2 linked regions of the Homo sapiens genome follow. The protein of the gene in region 2 interacts with the protein of the main gene of each other region in a pairwise test. Each region holds a gene or a part of one and is shown on either strand. Other genes may lie near its edges.

The links.
Region 1: the proteins of CD72 (region 2) and NRG1 interact in binary tests that used the Homo sapiens proteins (3 or more experiments, as listed by UniProt).

Annotation. Positions count from the first base shown.
Region 1 is NC_000008.11:32,764,641-32,768,467, reverse strand, and holds part of NRG1 (pro-neuregulin-1, membrane-bound isoform isoform HRG-alpha proprotein), read right to left. Parts: 3' UTR 1-3,827. UniProt on the Homo sapiens protein: Direct ligand for ERBB3 and ERBB4 tyrosine kinase receptors. Concomitantly recruits ERBB1 and ERBB2 coreceptors, resulting in ligand-stimulated tyrosine phosphorylation and activation of the ERBB receptors.
Region 2 is NC_000009.12:35,612,361-35,615,653, forward strand, and holds part of CD72 (B-cell differentiation antigen CD72), read right to left. Parts: intron 634-3,293; coding exon 488-633; intron 1-487. UniProt on the Homo sapiens protein: Co-receptor of B cell receptor (BCR) that plays both positive and negative roles on B-cell functions. Recognizes the Sm/ribonucleoprotein (RNP) self-antigen ligand, and coligation of CD72 and BCR inhibits BCR signaling.

The sequences.
Region 1 (3,827 bases), on a different chromosome or scaffold from region 2:
TGGAAAGTCATTAGCGGATGGTATAAGGAAGCTTAGCATGGCCAGGTGTCAACTGGCTGCCTTTTAGGCCACTATGGGCCATTGGACTATTTGAACCATGAGAGCATTTTTCGTTACCTTTCGTGATTGAATGGCACGTTGACATTTTCATTAGTCTGAAGGAGTTTCTTACTGCCACTACAAAAGATAGCAACAGCCAGGATCCAGGCAGTCATGCCCTAGAATATTCTCTCTCTGTTATTGTGTATGGAGGAAAAAGGAAGCATAGTACTGTCTGGTTGTGTGGCCTCTTCAACAAGGAAGAAAGTGATAAACAGCATTGGTAGGGAGGAGATGATTTGAGAACAGGTGGTGTGGCAAAAGCAATGGACAGACAAGAAGCAACGTATAGACAAGGTGATCATGGGGTCCATGGAACACAATCCTAAATTAGCATAACTATGGGAATGAGATGAAAGGTGCTGGTCTAACAGACTGAAGCTGTAGTCTGCTGAGCAACACTCCCAGGTCTCCACAGAGTAGCATTTTTATTGCAGTATGTCTTTCATGGAAAATGGACAAAACTTTAAATAAATCACAATTACTTATTGCTTAGTATTTTGAATAATAAATTCTTTAGTTTATCAGTACCTCACGGCCTTCAATGTGCATTCTTCAGATAGTTTCAGTTACATATACATTCTTTCTCCTGAACAATAAATTATTCTTAAAAAAAAGAAAAGGAAAAGATACATAATTTTAAAGCAAAGAAAAACAAAAGAACATATATTTTTGACATTTATCTTAAACTTATATGAAAACAACTCTATATGTTAGATGCTTAAATATAAATAATAAAGGACATTATGTTATTTACAATGTTACATAGTAAGTTGAGAGAGTAAAAACTGACATTAACTCAAAAAGACAGTAAATGATATAAGAAAACATCCAAGTAATATACAATATGTATTTACAAAAGAATATATAATAGAACTTGTGATATGTGGCCATTTCCTTCTGCCTACATTTCTCTTCAGTGTTTCATAGGTCTTCGCAGATAGAAATCTCTGGCTGGTGGAATGCAGCCAGTATTATTAATACAAGATAAGACCAGGCCTTCCTTATTTTCACCAGTGTGAGCCATGCGCCCTTTAACCCCAGGCCATAAAAAGGAATAGTTAGTGAGCAAGTTACCCTGGATAAACTTCACCTCTAACAAGACAGTCACACTGAAACAAGAAAGTGATAGCAGGTTTGGGACACATTCACCTACACAGAGGACCATTTTGTAGAAACTAGAATGCTGTCCAGGCACTCTTGGGGGCAAAAGTCACACTAGGCAGGAAGGGAAAGTAAGATAGAAAGTGAATCTTAGGTGAAACAAAAGGAGTTTTGCATGTATTTGCATGTATTATGCTCCACTGCATACACCTCAGTGGGATACGATTTTAGACCCGGGAAACAAAGTTGCTGTCAAACTCCTGGGCAATTTCTACTACCTTAAAACCTAAGATAGCTTTCCATATGCTGGGAACATAAGTTCACACTCCGATCGCCACTGCACTGTCGGAATTTATTAACAGAGGTGGTCAAGAGTGATGTGACAAGCATCACAGAGATACCCCTGTAAACACAAATCTAGTGGCCTTGGCAGGTGATGCTGAGCAGTCAGCTGGCCTTTTTTATGAAGGGTGCAAAGGATGTCCCAACTATAATAATATGCCACCTCTGTGAGTGATCAGAATCAAGTTAGAAATACAATTTCCTCTTGTCTTCAATTTTCATATATATTTGCAATTTTAAAATGCATAGCAATTCTCATTGTAAGAAACATGTTGCTCATGGTTCTCAACAGAAACTTCTATTTATTCTTAAAATTCTTCCACAATGGGATATCTGAGTACCCCAATGCCCAAAGAATTTGAAACAGAATTTTTAGGGTTTTAAATTCATGGTAGGAATTTCTTCATTGAAATAGCTAAGGATGAGTCAAGGCCTTCAAAGGCAATGTTAAAATAATTTAGAGAACTTCATTGGACTGACTGTCTTCTTCCCCATGCCGTGAGCTTACTCATTACTGCAGAATTGGAAAATCAGTGCAACCTGACAAAGACTCCTCAGTGTAGGTTAAAAAGCAAATGAGGATACCACTGTGCACAGAGAAAGTGGCATGTGAACAGTGACGAAAAATTTGAGATACCAAATACTAACAATAACTTCAAGAACCTGCAGACAGGCATCTCTGTGGATTGTAGGAGCATGTGGGAGGGTAACAACATGACTCATGCCCAGCCTGCATTTTTCTGCTAAGACCTACTTGCATGTCATTTCTTCTTTTTAATTGTTAACATCAAGATTTGGTGAAGAAATACATTCAGTTCACCCGCAAAAAAGAAGCAATTACTCTCACTGACTTCATGAATCCCCCGATAACCTGTTTCCCATTTGTCCCATGGTTCCTAGGAGGCCATGTGAATCCTAAGTAAAGCTCCAGCCCTGATTTCACAGATATCAGGCAGGCCATGAAATGGGTTCTGTGTTTCAAATAATTTTTTTTCTTCCATTTTCCTGAATTAGCAGTTATTTCAAATGTTAATACTTATAGGCCTTCCTTTGGATTTACCATCACAAAAGAACATGCAATGCTTAGACCAATCTTAGTCCTACTTTATGACAGTAAAGCAAAAATTAAAGGAGGTGGGGGAAATGGGTGAGAGAGCCTGTAAATGGAGAGGTCAGGACACAGGTGGGGGTCACTTCTGCAAGTAAAGGTGCAATCTTTCCAACAGGATTGACATTTCCTGATGAATCATTACTTGTGATTACAAATCACATACACATCGGCCATTCCTGATAAAAAATGTTCATGCATAGTTATGACCTGATCAAGGCAACATGGAAAGATAAAAGAAAAATAAGGGGGAGAAAGGGGTGGTCATCCACATTTTAAAATTTCAACGGAGTCACTAAGCTTCTCTCCACCTATACAGTCACTCCTTCTGAACACTCTACGATGGAAATACTTCCCTATGATGACAAGTCATCGCTATGTACAGCAGGCACGTTTGACTCTAGAAGTATTTCAGACAAAATGCTGCATGTGCTGTCTGGGCTGGGCTTTTTGTGCCGTAATATGCTTCTTTTTGAGCCAAGAAGACACAACCAATCACTAGCTTCAAAATCAGTGAAAAATACATGTCAGAAATGATTGCACCTTTATCAGCCGTGTTTTGATTGTCAACTAGATAAGCTGCTGGATCATTCCCCCAGAGAGAAAGTGACACTCAGTCCTCTTGTAAGGTGTTAGATTTACCCTGATAGCAAGCCAGAACCCATTTTCTAAGCTATCCCTAAAACTGTTGCTTTTTGTCAAGAAAAATAAAATCAAATAAAGTAAATGAGAGCTCCTTTTAGTAAGAGCAAGCTGTCTTCTGATTAATAATATAGTTTTTTTTAAATCACAGTATTACTTTCTTCCTAATATTTAACATTACTTAATGCAGTTTCTTGCTGTATTTAATAGTAGCATGCTGTTGGATCTACTATTATCTCAGAGCCCAATGAGGCAAACCTTTGGCTGGCAGAGTAGACACAACTCATTTCATATTCTGAAAGCAAAGAAAACTTCATACACAAGAGAGGCATATCTGGATGGATGTGCCATTACAAGACATACTGATCGGGTGCTACTACAAGCAAACAGAGGGACAGTTGCAAGTCTTGCAAATCATACATCCAGTCAACATCATAATGCAATGCACAAGAAGCCAGCAAAAACTGAATCTATGAGAGGTTTTGCAGAAATACTGTGGAAAAGCAATCACTGTAACTGTACAAAACTTGCT
Region 2 (3,293 bases):
GATCACCTGAGGCCAGGAGTTAGAGACCAGCCTGACCAATATGGTGAAACCCCGACTCTATTAAAAATACAAAAATTAGCTGGGCGTGGTGGCATGTGACTGTAGTCCCAGCTACTCAGGAGGCTGAGACGGGAGAATTGCATGAACCCAGGAGGCGGAGGTTGCAGTGAGCTGAGATTATGCAAGTGCACTCCAGCCTGGGTGACAGAGTGAGACTCTGTCTCAAAAAAAAAAAAATGTAGATATGGTTAAGTTTCCATTCTCATGCCAACTCTAATCAGTTACTAGGGGCTGCCTGGACCACTGTGCTGAGAAGATGCAGAGGTTGTTTCCAAGCTCAGAGGTCAAGAGTATTATGATTCTCAGTTTCTTCCATGGAAAAGGAATGGCCACCCCAGCCATGTGTGCACTGCCATTCCTGACTTGATGACATATGTCCCTTTACCTAATAGTACCCACTGCAGTCTGTGAGTAAGGATATGCTTACTGATTGTGGATAAATTTCACTGAATGTGGCCAGCTTGGAAGACAGAGTTTCACATTGTTTTTGGCTCTCCTGCCAATTTTTTGAAGTAAGTGAGATGTAAAAGCAGCTTTTCTGATGCATTATCCATCCCGACGGACAGCAGGTGTCTAAAAAGCAGAAAGAGTGTGATAGCAGCAACAGTTGGGATGAAAGTGACTACTCAGCAATCTTTTGCTAACAATATTCCCCCAGAGCTAATCTCAGCACCTTCATGGACTTCTATGATCTTTGCAATCTTTCTTTTGCATCCCCTGGAAACACCATACCTGTCCTTACTTAGTAAAAAGACTTTAACATTCAACAACATTACTTCTTAGCAATCTGGGAGGTCTGTCTTAATAGGGCTGATTTTATTACCCCAATTTCTGAACAATTGCAGTCCACCCTGACACTTTACCTAACATCTCTTGGGCCCATCTCCTCCACTCCCTAAAGCACCCCTCACTGCACATCCTCCACTCCTCCAGCACTGGCCCCCTCCGTCCCTCTCCAATTTCCTACAAGCAGAAAATGTTGTGTACTGTTTTGCAGAAACTGAGCTCTCTCCTTTTCCCTCCTCTCCACCTCAAAATTTCTCTTCTCTGTTCTTCTTTTCCTGACTATCCATAAGAAATAAATATCCCTCTTTCTTCAACATCCTACATCCCAATGTGCACTTCTGATCCCAGGCCACCTCTCTCCATTGCTTTGTTCCATCAGTCCTACCTTCATCACTCAAAAATCATTCCCTCTCCACTAGCTCCCTCTCTTCTCTCTACATATGCTCATGTCCCCACCCTGCTACTCCCTTGAGCTACTGTCCTATGGCAACTTAAAGGAATAAAAAGAAATCCCTGCTGGGCACAATGGCTCACTTCTGTAATCCCAGCACTTTGGGAGGCCGAGGCGGGGTGGATCACCTGAAGTCAGGAGTTTAAGACCAGCCTGGTCAACATGGTGAAACCCCACCTCTACTAAAAATACCAAAAAATACCCAGGCACCATGGCGCATGCCTATAATCCCAGTTACTCGGGAGGCTGAGGCAAAAGGATAGCTTGAATCCAGGAGGCAGAGGTTGCAGTGAGCCCAGATCACACCACTGCACTCCAGCCTGGGAGTGCACTTCAGTCTCACAGAGCGAGACTCCGCCTCAAAAAAAAAAAAAAAGAAATCTGTATGGCCAAATGGAAGAGGGTGAGGAGATAAGTGGCACACTGAAAGGTAGGCAGGAGTGATGGAAGCCATGTTAAGGATTTTTATTTTTATATTATGAGGAAGAGAAAGTCAGTGTAGGGTTTTACATAGAGGAATTTTGTTCACTAGCTATATCCCAAGTGCCTGGGCACAGTGCTAGAACATATTATATGTTATGTATTCCATAACTGTTTATGTAATCAATTAACTGGAATGCTGTAGATTGGGTGACACGATCAGATTTTTGTTTGTAAAAGATTACCCTGGCTCCAATATGAAGAATGGACTGCAGGGAGAGGAGTGAGTAGGAAAAACATTTAGAAAGCTGTTGCAGATATCCTTGCAAAAGATGAGGATGGGCAAAAATCCATATGGATATATAGACTTGGTGATGGAAAGTGAAGGGAATTCCTCTCTGAAAGAGTGGAAGATGAGGACATCTGCTGAAAGTGAGGGAGAAGGAGTTACTATGGAGAGCAAGCTGACCATTGCAAAGGTTGCCAGGCAGTGCTGAGAGACTAGAGTCTCAGTGGCACTGAGCAGAATGATTCCACAATTTGTCACACCTTGATGCTGACCATGGGCAGTTGGGTTCATCCAGAGTTCAAATTTTGCCCATCAGGTACACTAGAAGGATAATGGAACAAAGAAGTGAGTGAGCCAGGTGCGGTGGCTCACGACTGTAATCTCAGCACTTTGGGAGGCTGAGGCAGGAGGATCGCTTGAGTCCAGGAGTTCGATACCGGCCAGGGAAACATAGTGAGACCTTGTCTCTATTTAAAAAAATAAGTGAGTAGTTGAAGTGATGGGCTCCAAACCCATGTTAGGTAGGGAGAGAAGTGTGGACAGGAGAAGCTGATGGGAAGAGAGAAAAAGGGGAATCAGTTGATTGGAGGCCTGGACTGATGGGAAGGGAGAAAAAGGGGAGTCAGCAGATTGGAGGCCTTGATGAGATCAAAAAAGTGTGGGGAAAACCTGCAGGAGTGGTGGGCAGCTGTGATCAGAGTGGAAGTCTGAAACCATCCTTTCGCCGGAAGAGCAATTTGGGAGGTAGAGGTCTAACATGCTGCTAAGAGCAGCCCTGGCATGGAACTGATGGTCACAGAGGGTAAGGTTAAGGAAATGAGGGCAAGGGGTGTCTGCACATAATCTTGCTGTCTTATGCCTGGGGAGATCACCCAGATGACCCCCAAGCTAGACAGAGCCTAAACCTGATCATAGCCCAAAAACACCCCAGTCCCCTTAGGCGTGGCACCTTGCCTAGACCCTCAGCCTGTTTTGATACAGCCTTGCCTCTTTTATGTGTCCCTTTCCCCATCTCCACTTACTGGCTGGGGTCCTGCTTTCAAAATGAATGGACACCCCATCCTAGTTCCCTACACCACAACTCCCAGCTCCACCTCACTGTGAGTGCTGAGCGCCTCACTGCCTTGCCCCACCACCAGGTTGCACTCCATGTCAGCCAGTAAGTCTTACCCTTTGGGGAGATCTCAGCTATAACGAAAATTAATTAAAAATGAGGTCCCTGTCTTTAGAAAGATGTGCAAACCGCCAAGTTCACATCCAAATTTGGGGGCGTTCCCAGATCCTTGT